7 linked regions of the Homo sapiens genome follow. The protein of the gene in region 1 purifies or fractionates together with the protein of each later gene. This does not show direct contact. Each region holds a gene or a part of one and is shown in the gene's direction. Other genes may lie near its edges. The genes, in order: NPTN, COG5, BTAF1, EARS2, EXOC5, RUFY2 and ANAPC2.

Region 1 (3,500 bases):
GTTTGTGGAGGAAGTTTAAGGAGACTTCCTCAGAACTCACCAAGTGTGAAGTCAGTGTGCTGACTCTGAGGTCATCAGAGAGGCCTGAGGTCCCCGAGGCATGCCTGACTGTAGGGGTTGTACCCCTCCTTCTGCCGTCCTCTTTCTGCTGTGGTTTCTTACCTGGTGTTGGAGGCAGCATTTACTAGGTTGTTGGACTTTTCTGAGTCTCCAGGCAGTAGGACCTGCACTCACTTCGTGGAAGTCGGGGAAGTCTGGAGGACCGATGGTAAGGGAGGCTTGCCTGGCTCTGTCAGAAGTTGATTTGTTGTTGTTGATACTGAAGGGAAATCATTAATGAAATGTTCCTAGACACTGCTTCCTCATTCTGGCTGGTGCCTAAAAAGAACGGAGAGCAGTGTCACCCTCTCTTGAACATTAGCTCAGTTACTCACTCTCACCTTTGTGTATTCTCACTTTTTTGCAGGACATTGTCAATACCTCTGGCCGCTTCTTCATCATCAACAAGGAAAATTACACTGAGTTGAACATTGTGAACCTGCAGATCACGGAAGACCCTGGCGAGTATGAATGTAATGCCACCAACGCCATTGGCTCCGCCTCTGTTGTCACTGTCCTCAGGGTGCGGAGCCACCTGGCCCCACTCTGGCCTTTCTTGGGAATTCTGGCTGAAATTATCATCCTTGTGGTGATCATTGTTGTGTATGAGAAGAGGAAGAGGCCAGATGAGGTTCCTGACGGTAAGAGCATCCCTACAAAATAGCTGTACTGCTGGGGTTGGTTCCTTCGGGTGGTTTCCAAGTACCCAAAGAGGACTATAGGGATGTTGGGATTCAATCCCTAAAGGAAAGAAGGAAAATTCTTATACCAGTTCCTAACCCCCTACCCGTAAGAGTTTTTTATTTTTATTTTTTATTTTTATTTTATTTTTATTTTTTTTGCATTAGCCATCTAGAGCTGTCCTTAGCTCTCTCCCTCTGTTTGGGTGTTTTCCAAACCCTAGTCCCATCTGCCTTTCAGGCCCCATGTGGTGAATGGGCAGCTGTCAGTCTCTTTGTTCAGCTCTGTCCTCCTTCAATACAGATCATCAGGCAGATTGAGCTTGAGGAGAATCCAAGTCAAGCCTAGAAGCCACCCCAAGATGGCAGGCCACCTGGCCTTTCAGGCAGATTTAAGGTATCTAACTGGTTGTCACATGGTTGCCTGGTGTAGCCCCTGTAGGTAACTGCCCCAGCCCAGTCAGACTGTTCTCAGAAAAGCCATTGGAACAAGCCAGCTTTTGGTTCCTTGGTTGGTCCCTTTGATAGGTTTCCAGCGCTCTCTGCTGGGTGGCTTTCCATCTGTGTCTCACAGACAAAGGAGAGTCTGATGTATCCACCCATCTAGTGTAAGACAGAGATAGCAAAGGCGGAACAAATGGAGTCCATGCCCCGAGGCTGTGCCCTCAAGCTGGCCTAGGGTCAGAGAAGGGAGGAGATGGTAGCAGCAGAACCACAGCACACCACTGAGCACTGGAAAGAGCAAGAGCTGAAATCTTAGGTTATTGGATATGCCTAGAGTCAGAAAAGCCTTGGGAAATTTTTGGTGATCGATTTTTCCTGTGAAGGGGGAAGCTGCTGATGGAGACTTGTATCTGCAGTACTTCAGGTTCCCAGCTGGCTCCCCATCCCCACCCTATAACATGACCGGCGTACAGAAATTAATTGGCCGACTGTTACCACCACTAGTCTGTCCCTGGCTAGACTAGACAGATGGGTGTGCCCCTGGGCTCAGTGGTAGCCTACCCGGGGTGATGGTGGGGTTGCCAGCTGTAGTCCAGCTGTTCTGGGGCCTGTGTTTGTGCACCTGTGGTGCTGTATCCTGCCCCACAGAGCTGGCTGTCCAGTGGAGAATACAAAGTGACATCTGGTGCTCCCTCAGAAAGAATGTGGCCCCAGAGGCATGCCAGTGGCTTTAGACTCTCTGGGAGGACATGTTTGAGAGCAACAGCCCCTTCCCCATCTTTTCCTTTCTTCTCAGCAGTTATAAATCTCTCTGCCTGCAGTAAGTAGAGTGAGTGGCTGGTGAGGAGGTTTGTTGATGACACTGACAATATCTGGTGACTCCCTCCAGATGTGCACTCAGCAGTGAGCTGGGCAGAGGCGTGGGAAGGACGTTGGCTGGGAGCAGACGGCCTCTGCAAATGAATCTCTAGTTTCCTGCAACCTGGGAGTGTCCCCATGAGTTTTACTTTCCTACTTTATGAAGTGAACCTGCTTTCTTTGGGATTTCATGTACTCCTAATGCTTTTTCTCTCCAGGTATTTCTTTCCTGCTACATATTAGGACTCCCAAGGCAAGAGTGCACCTTTATTTAGACCTGGGAGTAAAGGGAAAGAGTTGCCTGTCTTTCGTGTGTTTTCAGCTTTGGCTCTGTGGGATCAGTTATGCCTCATTCCTGAAAAGGGCCTTTTTATCCCCCCAGAATGCTTTTGCTTTGCCAATACCACCTTCCTCAGCCTGCCTTTTGGAAAGGTTGAGAAGCTAAAAAGTCAGGTAAGAGAAGGCAGAGATGGACTTCAGAACCTGATTTTTAAATTTTAAGGCAAGGCTGGCTGCCACTGGTGAGAGTGATGCAGCAGCCTAGCGTGTTCCCAGCAGAGGTCTAGTCTTTGCCCTAAGAAGTCACCGCGCTTATGAGGTTGCTATCACAGTGCATGTGGTAGGTTAGATTTGAGAAATGGTTAGGATTGTTCTGTTGGATAAGTGCAGACACCTGCCCAGGGAAGCAGCTCTTTTTTTGTAAGAGTTTTCTTGGTTACTGAAATCAAATGGGGGACCAGTTTGTTATAGGAGACATCTGTGGCCAGCAAATCTGAACAGCTTCCTAGAGGGAAAGTACCTCTTTTAAACTAAGTTATTATAGACAGTGAATGAATCCTACCCTTAAAAGAGATGACGGCAGGGTAAGTGCAAAGTAAAACCTCCTTGCTCTAGTCTCTTGGGAGAGTATTGTAATGAAAGCAGCGTTTACTTCGTTGTTGTTGCATTGGGGTGAAAAATCTGAGATGCTGGAATGATGGCAATGTTTGCCTTCTCTCCTTCCCTTCCTGACAGCCAGTGTGGGCCAGGCTCCACTCTCCATCTTCACACCCTGCCCTTGCTCCAGTATTTCCATTCTGTTTTTCTCCTCTGTCTCTTTCTGTCTTTCTCTCAAACTCCATCCTGCTTCCACCCCTGCCCGCTTTTCTTCTCCTTTCCTGGAAGTAATCATTAAACAAAAGAAAAAGTTGAATGTTCTTTGGTGAGTTTCCTTCTTCTCTGCCTTTTCCTTCTTTAGCCAGTTCCCCTCAACCCCTGTGCACTCCATAGGAAGGACAAACTTACCTGTCTGCTTCCTTCCCATGTGCTTCTCCCCAAATTTTCATATAGATATATACGTACACTCCTTTTGGAATAAACGAAGAGGTACATTATATTTGACACAAACTTGGGAGTGTTAAGAGGTCATAAGTGTTTACC
Region 2 (3,500 bases), on another chromosome or scaffold:
TACTTACAAGCCATACATCTGATACGGGGATTAACGTCCAAAATATATAAGGAACTCAAATCAATAACAAGAAAACAACCTGATTTAAACATAGGCAAAGGACCTGAACAGACATTTCTCAAAAGAAGACATACAAATGGCCAGTAGATATGTGAAAAAACATTCAACATCACTAATCATCAGGGGAATGCAAATTAAAACCACAATGAGATTGCACCTCACACCTGTCAGAATTGACTTATCAAAAAGATGAAAGATACCGAGTGTGAAAGACGATGTACAGAAAAGGGAACCCTTGTATACTGTGGTTGGAATGTAAATTAGGCAGCCATTATGGAAAACTGTAAGGACGTTTCTCAAAAAACTAAAAACAGAACTACCACATGATCCAGCAGTCCCACTTCTGGATACATAACCTAAGAACTTGAAATCAGTATGTCAAAAGATATACGCACTTCCATGTTCATTGCAGCATTACTTACAATGGCCAAGTTATGGAATCAATCTAAATGTCCACCAACATTTAGATTGATAAATGGATAAAGAAAATGTGGTATACATACACAATGGAATACCATCCAGCCTTCAGAAAGACAGGAATTCTGTTAATTGCAACAAATAGATGAACCTACAGAACATTATGCTAAGTGAAGTAAGCCAGACACCAAAAGACAAATACCACATGACCTCACATATCTGTTGTCTAAAACAACCGAATACATAGAAACAGAGAGTAGAATGGCAGTTAGCAGCTATGGGGTGGAGGGAATAGAGAGATGTTGGTCAAAGGGTACAAAGTTGCAGTTAGGAGGAATAAATGATAAGTATTTAAGGTGATGAGTATGATTACCTTGATTCAGTCATTCCACACTGTATACATATAACATTACTGTGTATCCCCTTATTATATATTATTATAATTCATCAAAAATAAACATTAAAAAAATGAAATAGATTGGCACCATTTTCGGATAGGGAGGCTTCTTTTATTTGTTTGTTTTTGCAGCCTGGCCTTGTGGAGTGACAAACCTAGAGTAAAGCTAGGCTATGCAGTTGTCTGAATCTGGGAAAACCAAACCCCACATGAAGATGGCCGTCATTTACTAAGGCTCCCCTGTACCCAAGCGCCACTCCATCATGTGATGATACTGCAAACAAAAATGTTGCACCATACACCCTTCAGCAGCCTTGCTGTTGTTGGCACAGTCTTATACCTGTATGAAATCCCTTCCTGCTGGAACATAGGCCTACTTCTTCTATCTCTATCTGCTTCTGAAAGTGACGGACCTCTGGTTAGCATCCTATTTATAGTAACCACTGCTGTATTTGAAGATAATTAAGTTCAACTCATTCTCTTGCTCTAAGCATTTTAGTCATATCTGTTGTTCTTCTATAGACCATCACCAATTTCTCTACGTCATTCTCAGAATATGGAAACACTTAACTTGCTTTTTGAAAAAGATTCAGCATGATGTAGCCAGTGATCTCATTTATTAGAAAATATCAGGTGTTAGCTAGTTTTGGTATATCTCTTTCCTATAAATATTTCACATTCTTTTAATATATTCTTTAAAGAGCAATTATAAACATTTATAAATTATAAATAGTATTTCATGGAGCATCAGCTGGTATCATTTGTTGATCCAAATTAAAGCCTTTCCAAACCTCATCATCTAGAGGAAAAAACTGCATGCCATGTGTACTGTTACATAACCATTTCCACAGTCAGAATTCTGTTGGACTGATCTGATTAAATAGCACAAGAGCAGAGAGATCTTTGCCAAGAATTTGTATAGGGAAAGCAGCATTTTCTGTCATTGCAAAGCATAAAATGCTATTTCAGGATCCATTATTGATGCATTCAGTTAGCAGGCAAAACATGTGAGTGGATGGAGAATTGAGAGGCTGGGAGGGACCTTGAGAGGCCAGAGAGTAGCACTTGTATGATTCATCCAAGACAGATGGTTGTCTATTTCATTCTTAATAATCTTTAGGTAAATGGATTCTAAAATTCCTTCAGTAATCCTCCTGGCATCTAAACCACTTTTTGAAATGTAATTTTTAAACATTGTTTTCTGCTAACGCTTATCAAAAAGTAATTAATGTCTTTTATACCATTAAGGGAAAACATTACAAAGGATTGAAATAGCAGCATTGGTGGGGAGAGGGGTACAAAATCAAAGAGTGTGATTTAGTGCAGCGGTGCTGAAAAGGGCTGCTTTTTCTTTTACAGGTCATTATCCAGCTCAGGAAAACCTGATGTTCCTTGTTCTCTGTACATGAAGGAGCTACAAGGTTTCATTGCCAGAGTTATGAGTGACTATTTTAAACACTTTGAATGCTTGGATTTTGTCTTTGACAACACTGAGGCTATTGCCCAAAGAGCTGTTGAACTTTTTATCCGCCATGCCAGTCTCATAAGACCTCTTGGTGAAGGTGGGAAAATGCGACTTGCTGCTGATTTTGCACAGGTACATTGATGAATTACTACAAAAGAAAAAATGTTTTGGCCTCAATATCATCTATTAAATGAAAGAATGTGTTTTCATCGGTGTTTTTAAAGAGTTGCAGCACAAAGAAAAGTAAGCCCACTTAAGCATAAATAGTTAAAAAAAAAAAGGGAGAGTTTAAAGATACTTTTATACCAGATATATTTTTCTTTGTATTTAACAAAATAATTATCCCTCTCTTTGGTATTTCAAGGTTAAGGTGAAATAGCTCATTCCACAGGAAAGCAGCACTTCCCATTTTTATTTCATATGGGATTTTCTCACTATTTTACTGTCCCAATAGGTCAAACCTTGCTGACCAATAATGTAGGCAATGAAATCATATTTCAAACAGTGAAAAGAGACCGCTTGTTGCCATGTCACCATTCCGAGGCAGTGTTCCCATTCCTTTAAATGCACAGTGGGCCAGGTAGACATAGAGTCTGATTATTTGTTCTCTCTCTATCAGGTAGAGTACAGTTCTTCTCTGTGGCTAGCCTTGAAATCATTTCAGGCTATCTGATGTGTGTGAGAGATAGAATGACATTAAAATAGCAAAACATTATCAGCTCTTATAGAAAGCGTTTTCTTTGTCCTTTAGACAGATTTTTTAAAGCCTTTCAGTAGGCAATGAAGAAAAACCCCAAACATGCTTTCATTAAAAGATTCAGAAACAAAGATGATTGTTATTTTTGTATAGCATACCAAGGGTAAAATCTTTTTCTTTTTGAGACAGAGTCTTGCTCTGTCGCCCAGGTTGGAGTGCAGTGGCACAATCTCAGCTCACTGCAACCTCCACCTCCTGGGTTCAAGTGATTCCTCTGCCTCAGCTTCCCGAGTAGCTGGAACTACAGGCACGCGCCACCACGCCTGGATAATTTTTGTATTTTTAGTACAGACAGGGTTTAACCGTATTGGCCAAGCTGGTCTCAAACTCCTGACCTTGTGATCCACCCGCCTTGGCCTCCCAAAGTGTTGGGATTACAGGCGTGAGCCACCACACCTGGCTGG
Region 3 (3,500 bases), on another chromosome or scaffold:
GTTCGATCAGGGATGGAGGGTAGAAAAAAATGTCTTGAAGGAAATAGCATAGCTTGGTTGTACATTTTCACCATTCTTCATTTAACCAATATTTACTGAGTGCTTTCTATGTTATAGGTGCTAGAGGTATAGCAGAGAAAAAAACTGTACTCTCCATTCTCATGGAGTTTATGGTCCAGGGTAGAGTGGGGTAACTTATCTAGCAAGCACCTGCCCTTACACCTGGCTTTGGTATGGTTTCACACCTTCATATTGATTCTTAGTGTTCTGTGTGATATCTTTATGTTTAAAACAACATAACATTAACATAGTTTCAAATTACCCACAACATGACCTAGAAAGTATATGTTTAAAAACACTAGAGAATTTGTTGGAAGTTGTTTCTTTTGACCTTAATGATAATATGTGCACTGTACTAAGTTCCACGTATTAAGTACACACTGTACACTATACTAAGTAATGGTCATTATCTTTCCTTACTTCCTGAGTAACACAGAAAAGTAAACATTCAAATCATCTATATTTAAAATTTTACTGTACTTTTGCCACGTGTAAAAAATGTATAACTAAATGGCTACTCTTGACTGGTCATGCTTTTTTAGTTAAGGCCACAAAGCTGTCTTTTTGAGGTATTCTGTCAGTTGACCTTTCCTAATTTATCAGAGAGGTTAAATATATTTTGAAAATATCAGTGAGGCTTTTTGCCCCTCCCCTCCCGAGATGTTTTAGAGTGGAAATACAGTATGTATTTGTTTATTAACTATGACGTAGTAATCTAGGACATGTTTTATTGTTTAAAATGCATGACATTTCTTTCTGTTTATTTTTATGGCTTTACTGTTATGAATTAACATAATGCAAACATCTGGAGAGGAGAGGGGTTAGATTGCAACTGCTAGCATAACCTCTACTACTATGTACTCTTTCCTTTTTCTAGGCAGTCTTTAGAACAGTTGCCTGAAATCACAGGTTACATGAATCATATCTTGTTTAGCTAATTCTCGGAATTGACATCCAGATTGAAAATGGGCCAGATTTCTTATTCTCAATAAATTTATAACCAGTGGATATTACAAAATATAATTTTCTTATGTTTTACTTATCTTCTATAGTCTTTGGTACCTTCCATGCAACTTGACATCTGTTACCTGTGTCTCCTCCATCTGTCTGTCTATCCTTCAGAGAATGAAGAATGTTACTTTTTCCTGCTAGCTGTGTGCAACAGAAGTTTTAGCCAAAAGTAGTATGGGAGTAAGTACTGTGTTCCCTCAGTCAGCCCTCCTTTTAACTTTCCCTTCTCTTCTGACCATCTAGCTTCCTTCAGACCTCTCCCTCACCAAGGGCCCTGTCTACCCTCCAACATAATACTGACTCTGTCTCACGTTCTTTTCCTCTTCCCCACAAGTTCACTGTACCAGCCTTTTCCACCGTGGCCTGGCCCTGATGCTTACCCTGCTTGCCTCATAGCTGGCTATCCTGAGATAACAGGTCAGACTGCCCTCTTGTCAGATCTTTGTCTGCTCATCTCTTTGTTCTTCCTTTTATGTGGTGTCCAATCTGCTGTCCTGAAGAGAGGAATGGAGAACTACGAAAGTGGCTTTAAATCAAGAGAATCAAAGAAGCATTCTTGTGTCTCCATTCCTCTATTCAGGGAGGCAATTTTGGTTACCATCCAAAGTGGAAGAAGTAAGGATAAACAGGCTTGGAATGGATGAGAGAATGAGCTGATCTGCTACCCTCAGGGCATTTGGCTGGTGGGAGAGCAGAGGTGACCTGACATAGCATTGGGATAAAAGGATCTGCAAAAAGGAGAATCAAGAGGAACTGTGTGTCTGTGGGACAGTATCAGCAATTAGGTTAGAGAGGAGTCTAAGGTCTTTGGGCAGGAGTTCTAAGTGAAGCTGGGTAGCAGAGGACCAAAGGAAAAGTTTAAGAAGGATGGAAATTATTGAAGGAATACAGTGCCTATTGCATGGCATTTTTCAGCTTGCTATTTGGGACAAGCGTAACTGCCTCATTCAGAAGGCTGAAGTACTGCTGTGCTGATCTTTTCAGTTACTGAAACATTACATTACCAACTGATTTTTTATGTAAAACTGCTGTCACAGATTAAGGATGTTTCTCAAAGGAAGCAGGAAAAAAAAAGGTAATATAAAATATTTTTTCTTTCCTTAAAGTTGGTTCTTAAACTTGTCCCCAAGAAACTTGAACTTTTCCTTAAGTATAGTTTTAGTTACAGTAAATGTCAACTACATAACAAATATTTGAATACTGTGCAAAGTGTTGTGCGAGACAAAAAGAATGATTGAAGGAGATGAAGCCTAATGAGGAAAATTAGACCTCATGTGACAAATTAATGTGAGAGATGCCACAAAAAAATATAATAAATACTTAAGTAGCTGTTCAAGATGAGAATTCATGTGGATTTCAGAAAAGGAAGTAATCTCTGTTGCATAGTAGTTTGAAATGGTTTCAAGAAGGTGAAGAACTTCAGCTGAATCCTGTTGGATGGGAGCTAGCTGAACAGTTGAACAAAGAGAAAAATACTTTATTTGTTTGCTGTAGCACATTTTATTCTCTTGTTAGAGAAGCAAGCTCAGGCACACCCGAAGATCACCTCTAGTGGTGTATCTGGTTAAATTCCAGGTGATATACCCATATTCTCAGCTGTGCCTCCCACCAACAGTTCCCAGTCTCACACATGGGGCCATTATATCTGCACAGCTGCCTGCTGTTGCAGTGAGGCAGAGTACATACCCACTGCAACCCCAACCAGTGACCATTCTGGGGATCTGGCAGAAACTGGCCAGGAAACCACCCCCTTGAGGAGGGGTGAGCCACTGTAACCCTAGCTTGAAGGGGTGTGAGAGACATTCTGAGTGGAGGAAACAGTATAGGTAAAATTGTGGAAACCAAAAATACCCACATTTGGGAGATACTTTTTGTTTTGGATTACTTTCTGGTAGGTAAGTGTGAGCCATTGAAAGTTTTAAAGTAAGGTAGTGATTTATTCGGGGGCGTTTTAGGAAGTTAATCTGGCAACAGGATGACAAGGCAGTTGGGAGTGTGAAACTGGCACTCTCAGATGGCCTGGATTTGGGGAATATTTGTTCTGGATATAATTTAAACAAATAACAGTATACAGTTTCCTCAGGGAGAAACTGATGAGAGTTGAGCAGTCAAGGATTGAATATGAGTATTCTCCCGATATTCATATTAAGAGTATTAAGAATAGGAGAACTAAGGAAAGAAGAGTTTGGAGAACAGGGTAATATAATGTGCAACTTAGGAAGGAAAGTATTGTAAGAATGGGGTGCTTGCTGGTCGCAGCTGTCAAAGAAGAGTCAAGAAAAATTGACCTTGTAAAAAACTATTGGATTTGGAGCCTAAGAGTTCATTGGTGACCTTCAGGTGTGGTATTTTGGTGTAGAAAGATGGAACCTTGATTTATATGGATTAAATTGTGTATGATGAGGAAATAATATTTTAAACACTTGTTC
Region 4 (3,500 bases), on another chromosome or scaffold:
AATGTATTTGTCTCTTGACAGAATATTTTTTTTCTCATCTCATTCTGTGACCCAGGCTGGAGTGCAGTAGCATGATCACAGCTCATTGCAGCCTTGAATCTCCTGGGTTCAAGCAATCCTACATCCTCAGCCTCTCAAGTAGCTGTGACCACAGCCATGTACCACCACACACAGAGTGTTATGTTTTGTTTTGTTTTGAGATGGGGTCTCACTCTGTCACCCAGATTGGAGTGCAGTGGTGTGATATTGGCTCAAGGCAACTTCTGCCTCCTGGGCTCAAGCAGTCCTCTCATCTCAGCCTCCCAAACAGCTGGAACCACAGGTGTGTGCCGCCATGCCCGGCAAATTTTTTTTGTATTTTTTGGTAGAGACGGGGTTTCTCCGTGTTGCCTAGGCTGGTCTCAAACTCCTGAGCATAGGAGATCCACCCACCTCAGCCTCCCAAAGTGCTGGGATTATAGGTGTGAGCCATCATGCCCGGCTGGCACACAGCTAGTTTTTAAATTTTTGTAGAGATGGAATTCCCCTATTTTGCCCAGGCTGGTATGAAACTCAAGCGATCTTCCCACCTCAGCTTCCCAAAGTGCTGGGATTATAGGCATGAGCCACCATGCCTGGCCAACAGATTTTTTTTTTTTGTTAAATTATAGTCATGCCCTGTTGTGGAATCCTTGCAGCCATTTATTTATTTATTTATTTTAAGCTTTCAGGATTTGTATTAAATCCTAGTCTAATTTAACGGTATCTGATGTTACACACATCATCTCATGGTGAACGTGTTTAATAAGCGAAAGCAAATCAGACAGCTTATCTAAGTCGTTATTTTTTGTGGACTAAACAGTAAGGTAACAACTACCCAGAACCCTATGGGTCATGATGGACACTTGCTCAGTTTTCATACAAGCTGTGTTGGTTATCAAAGTATATCTGCTAATATTTAATAAAGTGAAATGTCATTGGGGTGGAAAAGTCAAGCCTAGACATTTGGTTGGAAAAGAACAGATCAAGTATGGATTTCACAAACCAAAAGTTTATAAACTCAATGCAATACAAGTCCTTTCTATTGTAAAAGCTTAGTTGAAACTAAAAGATCTGTAAAAACTATTACTTTGGGCCTTAAACAGTACTAGCTCTTATGAGCAAAAAAAGGACACAACTGCAGCCTGGGCAACGTGGTGAAACCCTATCTATATTAAAGTACAAAAATTAGCTGGGCTTGGTGGTGTGTGCCCATAATCTCAGCTACTTAGGAGGCTGAGGCAGGAGAATCAGCTGAACTAGGGAGATGGAGGTTGCAGTGAGCTGAGATTGTGCCACTGCACTCCAGCCTGGGAGACAGAATGAGACCCTGTCTCAAAAAAAAAAAAAAAAAAAAAAGGAGGGGGGCCATAACTGTTGAGAATGTATTACTTGGTTTTATTTTACATTAGGTGGTAGGTACAAAGCAATCCTTCTTAATAAAGCTGACAGTTAGCTTCCCTTAGGACTTTTTTTTCCAGACAGGGTCTTGCTGTGTCACCCAGGCTGGAGCGATGCAATCATGACTCACCACAGCCTTGACTTCCTGGGCTCAAGCAATCCTGCTTCAGTCTCCCAAGTGGGTGGAACTACACACATGTACCCACCATGCCCGGCTAATTCTTTTTTTTTCTTAAATTTCTAGTAGAGACAAGGTCTCGTTACCCAGGTTGGTTTTGAACTCCTGGGCTCAAGCAGTTCTCCTGCCTTGTCCTCCCGAAATGCTGGGATTACAGGAGTGAGCCACCGCACTTGGACAGAACATATTCAATAATGCACATTTAAAACAAGTATTCATCTTACAAGTTGTTCTGTAATCCAAACATATGACAGCTTGGAGAACAACATTTAGAAAACAGAAGCCAATGTAAAAAGACAGATTAATACAACTAGAAGCCAGGCACGGTGGCTCACGCCTGTAATCCCAGCACTTTGGGAGGCTGAGGTAGGCAGATCACCTGAGGTCAGGAATTCGAGACCAGCTTGGCCAACGTGGTGAAACCCCATCTCTGCTGAAATTAGCTGGGCATGGTGGCGTGCACCTGTAATCCCAGCTACTTGGGAGCCTGGGAGGCAGAGGCTACAGTGAGCCAAGATCACGCCGCTGCACTCCAGCCTGGGTGACAGAGCGAGACTCCATCTCAAAACAAAAAACAAAAAAACCCAACTAGGATAGTGTAGGTTTTGTATGGCTCAGACTTTACAGTTTTCTTACTGCATCATCAATGTATCGATTAGAATATCTGTTCCAGCTAGGTGCGGTGGCTCATGCCTGTAATCCCAGCACTTTGGGAGGCCAAGGTGGGCAGATTGCTAGAGCCCAGCCTTCGCAACATGGTGAGCCCCCATTTCTACTAAAAAAAATACAAAAATTAGCCAGGCATGGTGGTGCACGCCTGTAGTCCCAGCTACTTGGGAGGCTGAGGTGGGAGAATCACTTTACCCTTGGGAATGTCTAGGCTGCAGTGAGCTGTGATCACTCTACTGTACTCCAGCCTGGGTGACAGAGTGAGACCCTGACTCAAAAAAAAAAAAAAAGAAAGAAAAAGAAAAGAAAAGAAAGAAACCCTGTCTCTACTAAAAATACAAAAAATTAGCTGGGTATAGTCGTGCATACCTGTAGTCCTAGCTGCTCGGGAGGCTGAGATGAGAGAATCACATGAGCCCAGGAAGTCAAGACTGCAGTGAGCCATGATTGCACCACTGCATTCCAGCCTGATCAACGAGAGTGAGACCTTGTCCCCTGTCTCAGTAAATGAATGAATGAATGAATGTTTCTTCAGCTGGCCCCATTGCTGTGGATTTAAAGAAATACCTTTTCTTCCTGGTTTTATTTAACCTTTGAGATCCATCCAATAATCTCTAATACCATCAATTAGCACTTCCCCTTTAACATCCCAAACACTAAGGTACCTCATTTTCCCAATCTGAAACATGTTATCAGCTGAGTACAGTGGCCTGTAATCTAATCACAGCACTTTGGGAGGCTGAGGAGGGTGGATCACTTGAGACTAGGAGTTCGAGACCAGCCTGGGCAACATGGTGAAACCCCATCTCTATATGAAATTTAAAAAAGAAAATAAACATGTTATTATGTTTACTGCCGCTGCTCTGTTTGGAAGATGACAGAGCTCCCAAAGTTTTGCCAGTCTTTTGTTCCTTTACAAGTTTTTCTGGAGCAACTTACTTTTTCTTCTTTAACTTTTTGTCAAACTCACTGTCAGAATTCCTGCCAGAAGAGCTTGAAGAAACAAGTTCCTTTGATTCAGACATAATGCTGCCCTGCTTCTGCAGCTGAACACCCTCCTGTTCACTCATGTGCAACTGACTCATTTGTAAAAATTTCTTTTTTGGCCGGGCACGGTGGCTCACACCTGTAATCCCAGCACTATGGGAGGCCGAGGCGGGTAGATCACGAGATCAGGAGTTCGAGACCAGCCTGACCAACGTGGTGAAACCCCATTTCTACTAAAAATATAAAA
Region 5 (3,500 bases), on another chromosome or scaffold:
GGTGGTAATTTAGCCAGGAGGTGGAAGACATCTCTCAGCTCTGCCTCTTACTAGTTGTGTGATCTTGGCAAGTTACCCAACCTCTTTGTACCTCAGTTTTCTCATCTGTAAAATGGGGGAAATAATGGTATCTACTTCAGAAGGTTTTTTTGATGACTAAATTGAGTTGAGAAATTTAAATTGCTTAGAAGCATACTATTAAGAGAGTAGTATCCATTTTAAAAAATTAGGTGTTGGCCACTTTCAATTTAAGTGGATTGAGATGAGAACTAGATTAGAGATCTATCAGGGAGGGAACACTTCAGCCTTCTCAGTCTCAGTTGACTCAGAGTAAATGATCCAAGAAGTAGGAGATTATAGTAGGAGAGGATTACAAAAAGGGGCTGTGGAAGGTTGTATTTTTCAGGATGGTCACAAGATCTGCCATCCTACATTGTGATGTTTATGCCCCTCCCATAGGAAGTAGGTTCTGTGTTCACTTCTTGAATCTGTACAGGCCTATGACTATAGAAGTGATGCTATGTAGTGATTTGCAAGGTTAGGTAACCTCTTGGACTCTAGCAGCCATGCCAAGAGAAAGCCCATGCAGCCCTTTGAAAGAACCAAGGCCCTTTGCCCTTGGCTCTGGCTGAACTCCCAGCTAACAGTAAACACCAACTTGCCATCTTGGAAGACTATCTTCTAGCCAAGTTGAGCAGCCCCAGCTTATTTCATGTGGAGCAGAGACCAGGTTTCCCTGCTGAGCCCTCCTCCAATCAGATTTGTGAACAGTATGATTATTGTTATTTTAGGCCACTAACTATTTGAGTGGTTGTTAGGCAGCAATAGATAACTGTAACAGAGGCCGATCAATTTCTTACCTGCACCAAGATCTAATAGCCTTCTGCTGGTCTTAGTGGAGACAGTGGTAGAGGTAGAGGTTGATGCTTAAGAGTAATAGAGTTCCATTTAAGTATTTTATGCTTTGGAGTTCTCCAGTCCAAGCAACTTGGAAGTGAACTTTTGGAATAAGCAAGTCATTAAATTGAGGACAGTATTATAGACTGCACATGTGTGTAATTAATCTAAAATACTGAGTCCCTGGTGTTCCCAGGAAATTAGATAGTTGAGGTGTGTGTGTGCCCACATGTGTGAGAGAGATTTGAAAGAGTGATTGATTGCCTTGTTCTCTTAAAAGTGGATTGCAATTTCATGTAACACCGTGCAAATAAACATAACCTACAAATTAAACGAAAGTTCTAGTTGAGTGATAAATAATTTAAAAGTTTGATTGTCAATAGTTTATGTATATATATATTTTTAAAACTTAGCAAACTTTTCTGATGTTACTTCCTTGAAGCCGAAATTTGAAAATGAGAAAATATAGTTATTTACATATCTTTGCTTATTCAAGTTATAATAAACGAAAGAAGCAAATGATTCTTTCACTTGTTTAATTTCATTTCCAAGGTGTCTATTAAATGCCTGTAAGAATATTTAACGTGTGTATTTGGCAATACACTTAATTTGATTTGAAATGCTAATGGCAGATTTTATTAAATATTTAAAGTAATTTCACAGTCTATAAATGTTAAAGGCACTATAATAGAGTGGGAAAAATATCTGGGTTAGAATCCTGGTTTAGTACCTTGATAAGACTTAAATTTCATTTCCTCAGTTTCTTTATTTATAAAAATGAGATGAAAGAGCTGGGCTGTGATGATATTTAAAGAACATTCTTGCATTACGAATTTTAAATCTAATTATATGATTCTGCTGAGACTAGTGTAACAGGAATTGTAACATTTGTTACCTTTCCCTTTTGGACATAGACATAATATATATAACTTTACTGTTCGAAATGAGATATATTCTATCCTGGAAAAATATTTTGCTTAAGAGAATCTAAAATATTTTGTAAGATTCTAAACTACCATCGTTTAAATAGTCTTCAAAACAATTTTGATAACATGATTAATTGGCTAATTTCATAGTTTAAAGGGCTTCAAGATTGAATGTTAACATTGACTAATTTTAAAAAGTAAAATTATTTATTTTGTAGTGTTTGTGCAAGTAGTTTTCAAAATACTTTTTCAAAGTTTGCTTTAGTTATATTAGTGTCTTAATGAGCTTTATTTTTCTACCTTTTCATACTACCTTTGAAATCCATTTTGCTAGCCTGAGACAAAATATTTTGTGGTGCTTTTTTAAAAACTCAGTATTCAATAAATATAACTTATTTATTAATATACAGAAAACACGTAAAGAATCTCACTGAAAAATCAAAGAAAATGGGGTTAGAAAGTAGAGGCCGAATATTATAAAATTCTTTTAGTTCTTTGTAGTGCCAGAATTGTATTAGGCTCATATTTGGTTTCTGTTAGAATCTTTGATTGATAGTACCATGTAATGCCTGTTCTTTATTTCTGGGTTGTGGGGTGGTGGTCCTGCCTTTTTGGTTTTGGATGTATGGATCAAGAGCATGACTTTCAAGACCCTCTGCAGGGGTTTCAGCCATGGCCCCAACTAGCTAGTGTTTTGGTATGCTCGGCATTGTTCTGTTGACTACAGCTGGAAAGCAAGAGAAATGTATGACACAGCATCCCCTTGCTTTCAATTTAAGTATGGAGAAAAGAGTGAAACTTATGAAAATGATTCTAAATCAATAAATGACAAAATGACAATTAGTAATGTTCTGTGTTGGGATTTGAATTTTTAAGCTTCATAGGGGTTTAAGAGTGGAGAAATTAATGGAGACCATGTAAGGAAGGAACCCTTCAAAGAAGAAACGGGAATAGAGCCAGGCTTTGAATAATGGTATAGCAGTGTTTGAATTGTTGGAGGAGAAAGGCCATACTTGGTGGGGTGAGTTACCTGGCCACAGGTTAGGAAGCAGGAGTAGCATGGGCTTGAAAAGAAGACTGGAATAGTCTGACGGAAGTGTGGCTGTTTGTTTTGAGGTACAGAGAAATTTGGGTAGGTGGTACAAGATAAGAACCCTAAAGGGTAGATATAAGAGTGTGAACTTGGCTGCATGTGGTGACTCACACCTGTAATCCGAGCATTTCCAGAGACTGAGGCGGGCAGATCACTTGAGGCCAGCAGTTAGAGACTAGCCTGGCCAACATGGCAAAACCCCATCTCTACTAAAAATATAAAAATTAGCCGGATGTGATGGCGCACACTTGTAATACCAGCTACTCAGGAGGCTGAGACATGAGACTTGCTTGAACCCAGGAGGCGGAGCCGAGATTGTACCACTGCATTGCAGACTGGGTGACAGAGTGAGACTGTATCTCAAAAAAAAAAAAAGAAAAGTGTGTGTGAATTTGATAGTGTAGTAGGAATTATATAGGGAAGTTTCTCACTAAAAGGAGGTAGTGTTTTAATGATTTGTTAGACAGTGGTATCCATAATAAATTTAAGGAAAATACATGATAGGCAGTACTTTTGAACCGATGGGTTAGTTGGTTTAACAAGATACAGAAATATCTCTCTGAAACGATCTGAGACTTACTTTA
Region 6 (4,281 bases), on another chromosome or scaffold:
GCGCCTGTGGTCCCAGCTACTAGGGAGGCTGAGGTGGGAGGATCACTTGAGCCTGGGAGGCAGAGGTTGCAGTGAGCTGAGATCGCGCCACTGCACTCCAGCATGAGTGACAGAGTGAGACCCTGTCTGAAAAAAATAAAAAATCTCTTCTAGCTAATAGGATATGCCTATCTAATTCCACTTGAGTCACTACTGGCCCTTACGATGACTAGGGCTCATAATCCTGGGAAATGTGAACCAAGATGGATCCAGGGATGAAGTCTGACTTTTTTTTTTTTTTTTTTGAGACGGAATCTTGGGATTACAGGCACGCGCCACCACGCCCGGCTAATTTTTGTATTTTTAGTAGATATGAGGTTTCACCATGTTAGCCAGACTGGTCTCGAACTTCTGACCGGGTGATCCGCCCGCCTTGGCCTCCCGAGTAGCTGGGACTACAGGAACATGCCACTACGTCTGCCTAAATTTTGTATTTTTAGTAGAGACGGAGTTTCACCATGTTGGTCAGGCTGGTCTCGAACTCCTGACCTCGTGATCTATCCAGCTCAGCCTCTCAAAGTGCTGGGATTACAGGCATGAGCCACCATACCCAGCCGAGGTCTGAATTTTAGTGCTTGTGTGGATATTGCTGTGGCACATAATGAAATATTTTTGAATTGTTTTCTCTCTTTTTTCACTTTAGCTTTTTGTAATGAGCTTTACCAAATTGTTTTAGGGCGGGCTGTGTGGCTCAGGCGTTATCCTAGCACTTTGGGAGGTCGAGATGGGCGGATCACCAGGTGAAGAGATCGAGACCACCCTGGCCAACATGGTGAAACCCCGTCTTTACTAAAAATACAAAAATTAGCCGGGCGGGGTGGCGCGCGCCTGTCATCCCAGCTACTCAGGAGGCTGAGGCAGGAGAATCCCTTGAACCCGGGAGGCAGAGTTTGCAGTGAGCCAAGATCACGCCACTGCACTCCAGCCTGGTGACAGAGCGAGACTCCATCTCAAAAAAAAAAAAAAAAAAACAACCCAAAAAACAAAAAAAAGTCGTAATTTGGGACTAACTAGTTTTATTAGGTTTCTGCCTACTGTTAATTGCTTCAGATTTTCTAAATTCTTTTGGTCCCCTTTGTGTTTGTGAAGGTGAATGGGCAGTAGTCAGGCGTGTTAGATCAGGCCCCACCAGCCCGGTGGAAGCAACGTTTGCGTGTGGCCGGCCGCCCCTTGAAATCCGGCCTTCGCGCTCCAGCGAAGCCCCCGGGACACGGGACCGAGGGCCCAGCACTCTGGCTCCTCACACATGTGGTCTCCTTCACGTTCCTTTCCTTCTCCTCGCGGTCCCAGCGGATGCGAGGAGGCTTAGAGACGGCGGGCTTCTCTCCCGCCCGCCGCAGGGTCCGCGGGTCCCCGCCCCGCCCGGGGCGCCGCTCCCCCTGGGGCCGCCCGGGCGCCCTCCCGCCGCCGGGGGCGCTGTGGGCTGCAGCGGGCCTGGCTGCAGATGCGGTGGTGGCCGCCGAGCGCCTGGAAGGAGCTGCTGGACAGGCCGAGGGAGCCTCCGCCCGAGACCGCGCAGCCGCCGCCGCCATGGGTAAGGCGAGCGGGCCGAAACCGAACGCTAGGCCCTCAGTCCCGGGCTGAGGGCCGCGGCCAGGCGGGGTGGACTGGGAGCTGGGGGAGACGCCGAGGCCGCCAGTCGGAACTGGGGCCCGAACCCAGGATGGGCGGGGACTGCCTGGGACTCGGGGGCTCCCGGGGTCGTCATGGCAACGCGCCCCCTCCCTTGTTCCGGCCCGTTCCCGCCCGGGTTCTGAGGCATAGTGGCCGAGGGCTCGAGGTGCCACGGCGTCCAGGAGCGAGGACAGGGCCAGGCAGGGTGTCACTCCCGGGTCGGGGAGCAGGCGGGGAGGGGCGATGACTTTTCAGGTTTGGGGGTGGCGGAGGGAAGACGCATCTCAGGTTTTGGCCTGGGTGCCTGACGCCGAGGGCGGGAGACGGGGAATGCTGACGCGCAGGAGCCTGGGTGAGCCCGCCGCGATGGTCCTGGGGGGCCCCCAGGCCTCTGGGCAGCCTTGCTGGGGGGAGGGGGCAGGAAGAGAGGCAGGGAAGGGGCTCTAGGCCCCGGCAAGGTGCGGGCACTGGCCCTGGTACTCCTTGCGCGCCTGCGGCCGGGTTTGGGGGTCGCGTACGGGCCGGAGAAGTCCTGTAGCGCAGCCGGGGCGTGGCCGCGGTGTGAACGCCCCTCGGCGTGGGAACTGCCGGTGCCCAGCACCGATCTGCCTCCCAGCAGCTGCAAAACACCCTTTGTGTGGTTGTCGCATCGCACGTTAGGAATTATGATGGGCTGTGTTAAAAATGAGAGTTGCCACGGATTATGAAACATGAAGTGGTTTCACTCCCGAAAAATAGTGGGAGTCAGACCACGATGCAGATTTGAAGGAATTCGTGTGTGGACATTTTTCCACCAGGCAGTTTGGCCATAGCAGTTGTGGCTGTTTGCATTTTAGGTTGCTTAGGATTCAGTGTCAGGCTTCATGCCTAGCTATCTAGAAATCGGAGCTGGAATACTAGATCATTGGAGACTCTGGGTTTTTTGTTGTTGTTGTTGTTCAGTGAAGGAAAAACGGGCACATTGATTACTTGTAAATTTGTCAGAGATTATGAAATGTTATACTAAGTGCTTCGTTTTTCCACACCTTAGTTTTGTCATCTGTGTTTGTTGAAGGTATTCCCACCAGTCACAACAGTGATGAGATGATGGGGAAGCGTCTGAATTTCTAAGTAAACTGAGAATAAAATTTGCGGGAAGGAGGACAATATTTTTGTGAATTGAAAATATCTTACTTGATGATACTGTGTCTTAAAAATATCAATTAAAAATCAGGCCTTTTAGAATTTGCATCTATTAACTTGGTATTCAGACTGGCGCTGTGGGCATCCTCAACTGTGTGGATGGGTGAGGAACATTAATGTAAAACTGGTCTCTGCTTTTATTTTCTCTTTGAAAATAAAACAGTCATGCAATACAGAACTACAGTCAGAATGAAGAAGCCAGACAGAAAGAGGGTAGACGAAAGAATTGGACGGCTTCTTCTGTGTCCCCTTGTCAGTGTATTTTACCTGTCATGTTTGTTGTGGATGACACTGGAATCCTAGAATTTTAACTACCTTTTATTTTATTGCCAGTTTATTCTGAACATTTTTGCCTTGGAATTCATCCTAAGACCGTACCTGCTATCTACCTTTTGCATGAGGCCCTTAAACCTGTTGTCTCTCACCCCAAATTTATCTCCATAGAAGATCATTTTAAAAAACTCATTCTCTATGAAGAGGTACCAGGAAAGTTAAATACAGGAGAATGGCAGATTTGCAGGATCTTGAGAATAATTCATTAACTTTGGCTGGAGTGGTCATGGAAATTTTCTTTTTTCTTTCTTTCTTTCTTTTTCTTTTTTTTTTTTTTGTGAGACGGAGATTCGCTCTGTCACCAGATTGGAGTGCAGTGGCGCTATCTCAGCTCACTGCAATCTCCGCCTCCTGGGTTCAAGTGACTCTCCTGCTTCAGCCTCCCGAGTAGCTGGGACTACAGCCGCGCACCACCATGCCCAGCTAATTTTTGTATTTTTAGTAGAGACGGGGTTTCACCATGTTGGCCAGGATGGTCTCAATCTCTTGACCTCATGATCCACCCGCCTTGGCCTCCCAAAGTGCTGGGATTACAGGCGTGAGCCACCGCGCCTGGCCGGAAATTTTTTACAGTATATGTGAGAGATGTAAAGAGAAGTTAATCAAGGGTGTGGTTTAGCTGGGGAGAATTTGTCAACCAAGGAACAGCAAACTACTGTTGGTTTTTATAGGGGAAGGGAATGGTTTGTATATTTTTCATTGTCATGTCTTACAAATGATGTTGGATTCCTTTCTTGTGTTTTCAGCTACAAAAGACCCCACAGCTGTAGAGAGAGCAAACTTGTTAAACATGGCTAAACTGAGTATCAAAGGACTCATTGAATCTGCTCTGAGCTTTGGCCGCACTTTGGATTCTGACTATCCCCCCTTGCAGCAATTCTTTGTTGTTATGGAACATTGCCTGAAACACGGTCTTAAAGGTATCATGAGATTTTAAAAAATTAATTCATTTTAGAATTTCCGTTTTTCAAGTGCCCTTGAGAATGGGTTATTTTTTGAGGCCATAATTACGTTACTGTGCACTAAAAAATATTGAGTGGATTGATTTTGGGAGAAAATATCTTATGACTATGTTTTCTAATAATGGAATAATAAATGGTCTTCAGAAAATGC
Region 7 (4,277 bases), on another chromosome or scaffold:
GGTCCCTTTCCCCCTGCCCCTCTGGCTGCCTCAGGCTCTCCAGCGTTGCTTCCAGGCAAGGCCCCAATGGCCTCCCTCCAGGGTCCTGCCTTGGGTCCCAGGCATGACTCAGCCACTTCCTGTTGCTCAGGCCTGATGTGCTGGGACAGCCACACTCTAGTGCCCTTTGTCTTAACTTCAGTGGGACACAGGAGTGGCTCAGGGAGGCCCCGGGGCTGTGCTGAGAGGTCCCACCAGCAGAGCTCCTGGCCGAGCGACCTTGTTGGACACGTGGCTGGCCATGCAGCCCACAGCGTCACCCCTGAGCCCTTGCATGTGTCCTGCGGCAGGCTGACCAGTGGCGGCGTTTGTGGAGGTCATGGCCTTGGAGCCAGAACTAGGACCTAGCAAGCCACTGACTCCACTTCCATTTTCTGTCCATAAAGAGGGGTTTGTTTCCATTAGAAGCTGCCGGATCCTGGAAGGACTCAGGAGCCCTTGGCCCACAGAGCAGGTGTGTCAGTGCCCCAGTGCTACCAGAACAAAGTACCACAAACCAGCGGGCTTAAAAGAAACATATCATTTTACAGAAGTCAGAAGTCTAAAGTCAGGGTCAGCAGGGCCCTCCGAAGGCTCTAGGGGAGGCTGCTTCCTCCCCTCTTCCAGCTTCTGGGGGCTCCAGGAGCTCCGGGGCCTGTGGGTGCCTCGCTCTGGTCTCTGCCGCGTCGCCCGTGATGTTCCCCCGTGTCTCTGTTCCTATCTCCCTCTTAGAAGAACACTCTCTCTATTCCAGGGTGACGTCATCTTAATTATATCTTTAATGACCGTATTTCCAAATAAGATCTCATCAGAGGCACCGGGAGTTAGGGGTTCATGTGTCATTTTTCGAGGGGCACAATTCAGTGCATGACAATTTGCCCCATGGTGGGCCCCTCCCACGTGCAAGTGACAGCCCCAGTGTCCCCAAAAGTCTTCACCATTTCAGCATCAACTCCAAGTCCAAAATCTCATCTAACTACCATCCACACAAAGTTCCACACACATCTCAGCCTGTAAATGCATCTTAACGAGGTCCAGGTGAGGCTGGAGTGTGCGCCATTCCTCTACGTAAATAGATCTAAACAAGGTACAGGTGAGGCTGGAGTGCGCGCCATTCCTCCAGCTGGGACGCCGTGAAATCAGCCAACAGATGATCTGTTTCAAAAGTTCAGCCGTAAGACAAGCATACACATTCCCACCCCAAAAGGGAAAACTGGGAGGAAAAAGGACAGCGAGTCCAAACCCAGCAGCCGAAATTCCACTTGACTTCCAGGCCTGCGAATCCTCTTTGGCCCCCTGCTCCGTCAGCCTTGGCCTCGGCGGCTCTGCTCTTGGAGCCTGCCTTCCTTTCACTCCAGCCTGGCAGCACTTCTGCGGGTGTAAAATTCTCACACCTTGTTGGCTTATGCAGCTCACCAGTGCCGAAGCCTTCAGACAGGCGGGTCCGCAGCCCTTTCCCGGAGGCCCCACCTGTCCCTGTCTGCTGCTGAGATGGTTAGTTGGATACACAGGTCACACCTCATGTCTAGCAAACCCTGGTCCAGCCACACCCTTGGCCACGTCTCAGAGCTGCCTGGATAGAGTATTTTTCAGATCCCCAAGGGCTGGTGCCTTTTTGCTTAATGGTCCCTGCCTCACTGATTGTTTCCCTCTTGCATTCTGCTATAAGTAGCAAGGAGAAGCCAGGTGGCACCTTCCACACTGCTTGGAAATCTCAGCTTGATGTCCAGGCTCATCAGCTGCAGGTCCCACTTCGCACCCAACAGCAGAGCAGCAGCCAGCCAAGCTCTCTGCTGCCTCCTCCGGTTCCCAGTAGCACGGTCATTTCCATCTGAGACCTCACTGGAAGCACCTGTTGGGTCGGCATTGCTGCCGACATCCAGTCTGTGATGCTGTGTGCATTCTCCAAGACGGCGGCAGCTCTCCTCTTCCAGCCATTTCCAGGCTTGTCTTCATGCCTTTCTACCAGCAGTCGTGCAGGCCTCACCAGTTCTTCCAGCCTCTCCCCATCACCCACTTCCAAAGCTGCTGCCACAGTTCTTGGTGTTAGGTTTTGGCAGCACCCCTCCTGGCCCTTCCTGGTACCAAAATCTGTTCGTTTACTGTGGCTGCTGTAACAAAGTGTCACAAACTGGGTGGCTTAAAAAACAGAAATAGATTGTCTTAGTTTTGGAGGCTGGAAGTCCAAGATGAAAGTACTGGCAGCCCCGTTCCCTCTGAACCCTCTTAGAGACCTCCGTTGCCCCCCAGCTTCTGGTGTTTGCCACAGCCCTTGGTGTTTCTTGGCTTGTGGCCGCGTTGCTCCAGGTGGTCTCTGTCTTCGTGTGGCCCCCTCCCCGCCTGCCTGTGTCTTCCTATCTTTCCTTTTCTTAGAAGGACCCCAGTCAGTTGGGTTAGGATGCACCTCAGTTACATCTGCATCAACCCTGTTTGCAAATATGGCCACATTTCCAAGCACTGGGGGTCAGGAGGCCCCTGTAGCCTTTTCGGGACACACCTTATGATGCTGGCCCCATTGCCCTTCCATGGTGGCTGAGCAGGTGGGGACCCCACCCAGTCCTGTGCTCTCGCTGCTCACCTGCCTGCCAGGGTGGGGTGGGGCAGGTGGCTCTGGGAGCCCCTTTCTCACTGGTACCAGGTGGCAGAGCCCACGGGCCTGAGCGCCCTGCAGCCGAGCTGCCCGTGCTGACCCTGGCCCTCCTTAGGCCATGCGGACCCTCAGTTGGAAGCACACCCTGGGCCTGGTGACCATGGACGTGGAGCTGGCCGACCGCACGCTGTCTGTGGCGGTCACCCCAGTACAGGCGGTGATCTTGCTGTATTTTCAGGACCAAGGTGAGCCCACCAGCCCCTAGCTGGCCTGCCCCGGCCACACGGCCCAGCTGTGGGTGAGGGGCTGTTCCCCAGTGAGGGTGTGGTTTGGGGCAGCTGCGCCAGCAGGCGGCACCCTTCCCTTTCCCACGGGCAAGGCAGGGTGGCCCGGGAGCCCCCCGACCTCTCGGCTGACGGGAGGCAGGGGAGGTGCAGCCCGTGCCCAGGCTGCCCAGCGTCCCGGTGACTCTGCACGCAGCCAGCTGGACCCTGGAGGAACTGAGCAAGGCGGTGAAGATGCCCGTGGCGCTGCTGCGGCGGCGGATGTCCGTGTGGCTGCAGCAGGGTGTGCTGCGTGAGGAGCCCCCCGGCACCTTCTCTGTCATTGAGGAGGAGCGGCCTCAGGACCGGGACAACATGGTGCTCATTGACAGTGACGACGAGAGCGACTCCGGCATGGCCTCCCAGGCCGACCAGAAGGAGGAGGAGCTGCTGGTGCGCGTGCAGGCCCCACGGGGGGCCAGGGGGCGGGGGCGAGGCCTGCAGGTGCCTGACGGGGGCTGGCCTGTGTCCGCAGCTCTTCTGGACGTACATCCAGGCCATGCTGACCAACCTGGAGAGCCTCTCACTGGATCGTATCTACAACATGCTCCGCATGTTTGTGGTGACTGGGCCTGCACTGGCCGAGATTGACCTGCAGGAGCTGCAGGGCTACCTGCAGAAGAAGGTGCGGGACCAGCAGCTCGTCTACTCGGCCGGCGTCTACCGCCTGCCCAAGAACTGCAGCTGACACATCGCCCGCCCGCCCGCCCGCCCGCCAGGCGCTGCCCTGCAGGTGCTCTCGTCCTCCCGTGCCAGCCCCCGCCCGCCCGTGTCCCAGAATGCACTGCTGAGGAGCATGCCCACCCCCACCCCCGCAGTGTGCAGATTAAAGCAAGTCAGATCATCCTTTTCTGTCCTGGTGGCTTTGTGGGGCCCCCCAGGATCCTCCTCTAGCCTGGGCCTCTCTCTCAGCCTGGCAGGGCCTGCTCCTCAGCAGCAGGTGAGGGGCCACCTAGGCCTACACATCTGCACTGGGAATGTAGCCTCCTGAGAGAATCCCGGGCCGCCCCCGACCCAGGGTGCTCAGGGAGCGGCACGTGAAGGTCCACGTCACGCCCGGGCCACGGCTCAGGCAGCCACGTCCTAGGGCTTAGTGCTTGCTACCCGCCAGACCTCCAGCTCCATTCCTGCGCCTCTGGCCTTTAGAAGGAGCCCTGGGGTCACCCTCTGCTCAGCCTGTGCCCACCTCCACACGCTCGGCCAGGAGGTCTCGGGCGAGGTTGGGACGTTGTGCGGGTTCGGTTGGAATTGCTGAGGCTGGCGAATGACCTCTAGGCCAACACGCCTCGTCTCTGGCAGTGAGGCTCTGCCGAAGGCTGTGCCCTGGTGGCCAGAGGGACTGGGCA

What was found.
Region 2: the proteins of NPTN (region 1) and COG5 purify together in Homo sapiens (co-immunoprecipitation; 2 studies listed by BioGRID and IntAct, with this or other methods). This does not show direct contact.
Region 3: the proteins of NPTN (region 1) and BTAF1 purify together in Homo sapiens (co-immunoprecipitation; 2 studies listed by BioGRID and IntAct, with this or other methods). This does not show direct contact.
Region 4: the proteins of NPTN (region 1) and EARS2 purify together in Homo sapiens (co-immunoprecipitation; 2 studies listed by BioGRID and IntAct, with this or other methods). This does not show direct contact.
Region 5: the proteins of NPTN (region 1) and EXOC5 purify together in Homo sapiens (co-immunoprecipitation; 2 studies listed by BioGRID and IntAct, with this or other methods). This does not show direct contact.
Region 6: the proteins of NPTN (region 1) and RUFY2 purify together in Homo sapiens (co-immunoprecipitation; 2 studies listed by BioGRID and IntAct, with this or other methods). This does not show direct contact.
Region 7: the proteins of NPTN (region 1) and ANAPC2 purify together in Homo sapiens (co-immunoprecipitation; 2 studies listed by BioGRID and IntAct, with this or other methods). This does not show direct contact.

Annotation. Positions count from the first base shown.
Region 1 is NC_000015.10:73,567,390-73,570,889, reverse strand, and holds part of NPTN (neuroplastin isoform b precursor), read left to right. Parts: intron 1-466; coding exon 467-740; intron 741-1,083; coding exon of another isoform or gene 1,084-1,100; exon of another isoform or gene 1,101-1,176; intron 1,177-1,346; exon of another isoform or gene 1,347-3,500. UniProt on the Homo sapiens protein: Probable homophilic and heterophilic cell adhesion molecule involved in long term potentiation at hippocampal excitatory synapses through activation of p38MAPK. May also regulate neurite outgrowth by activating the FGFR1 signaling pathway.
Region 2 is NC_000007.14:107,235,421-107,238,920, reverse strand, and holds part of COG5 (conserved oligomeric Golgi complex subunit 5), read left to right. Parts: intron 1-2,233; coding exon 2,234-2,471; intron 2,472-3,500.
Region 3 is NC_000010.11:91,930,270-91,933,769, forward strand, and holds part of BTAF1 (TATA-binding protein-associated factor 172), read left to right. Parts: intron 1-1,112; exon of another isoform or gene 1,113-1,251; intron 1,252-3,500. UniProt on the Homo sapiens protein: Regulates transcription in association with TATA binding protein (TBP). Removes TBP from the TATA box in an ATP-dependent manner.
Region 4 is NC_000016.10:23,536,851-23,540,350, reverse strand, and holds part of EARS2 (nondiscriminating glutamyl-tRNA synthetase EARS2, mitochondrial), read left to right. Parts: intron 1-2,175; exon of another isoform or gene 2,176-2,268; intron 2,269-2,796; exon of another isoform or gene 2,797-2,967; intron 2,968-3,118; exon of another isoform or gene 3,119-3,347; intron 3,348-3,500. UniProt on the Homo sapiens protein: Non-discriminating glutamyl-tRNA synthetase that catalyzes aminoacylation of both mitochondrial tRNA(Glu) and tRNA(Gln) and participates in RNA aminoacylation for mitochondrial protein translation.
Region 5 is NC_000014.9:57,258,906-57,262,405, reverse strand, and holds part of EXOC5 (exocyst complex component 5), read left to right. Parts: intron 1-3,500. UniProt on the Homo sapiens protein: Component of the exocyst complex involved in the docking of exocytic vesicles with fusion sites on the plasma membrane.
Region 6 is NC_000010.11:68,404,478-68,408,758, reverse strand, and holds the start of RUFY2 (RUN and FYVE domain-containing protein 2), read left to right. Parts: upstream 1-1,481; 5' UTR 1,482-1,569; coding exon 1,570-1,573; exon of another isoform or gene 1,574-1,896; coding exon of another isoform or gene 1,897-2,005; exon of another isoform or gene 2,006-2,934; coding exon of another isoform or gene 2,935-2,938; intron 2,939-3,293; exon of another isoform or gene 3,294-3,314; intron 3,315-3,914; coding exon 3,915-4,088; intron 4,089-4,281.
Region 7 is NC_000009.12:137,174,284-137,178,560, reverse strand, and holds the end of ANAPC2 (anaphase-promoting complex subunit 2), read left to right. Parts: intron 1-444; coding exon of another isoform or gene 445-493; intron 494-779; exon of another isoform or gene 780-2,723; coding exon 2,724-2,853; exon of another isoform or gene 2,854-3,045; coding exon of another isoform or gene 3,046-3,088; coding exon 3,089-3,324; exon of another isoform or gene 3,325-3,406; coding exon 3,407-3,619; 3' UTR 3,620-3,777; downstream 3,778-4,277. UniProt on the Homo sapiens protein: Together with the RING-H2 protein ANAPC11, constitutes the catalytic component of the anaphase promoting complex/cyclosome (APC/C), a cell cycle-regulated E3 ubiquitin ligase that controls progression through mitosis and the G1 phase of the cell cycle.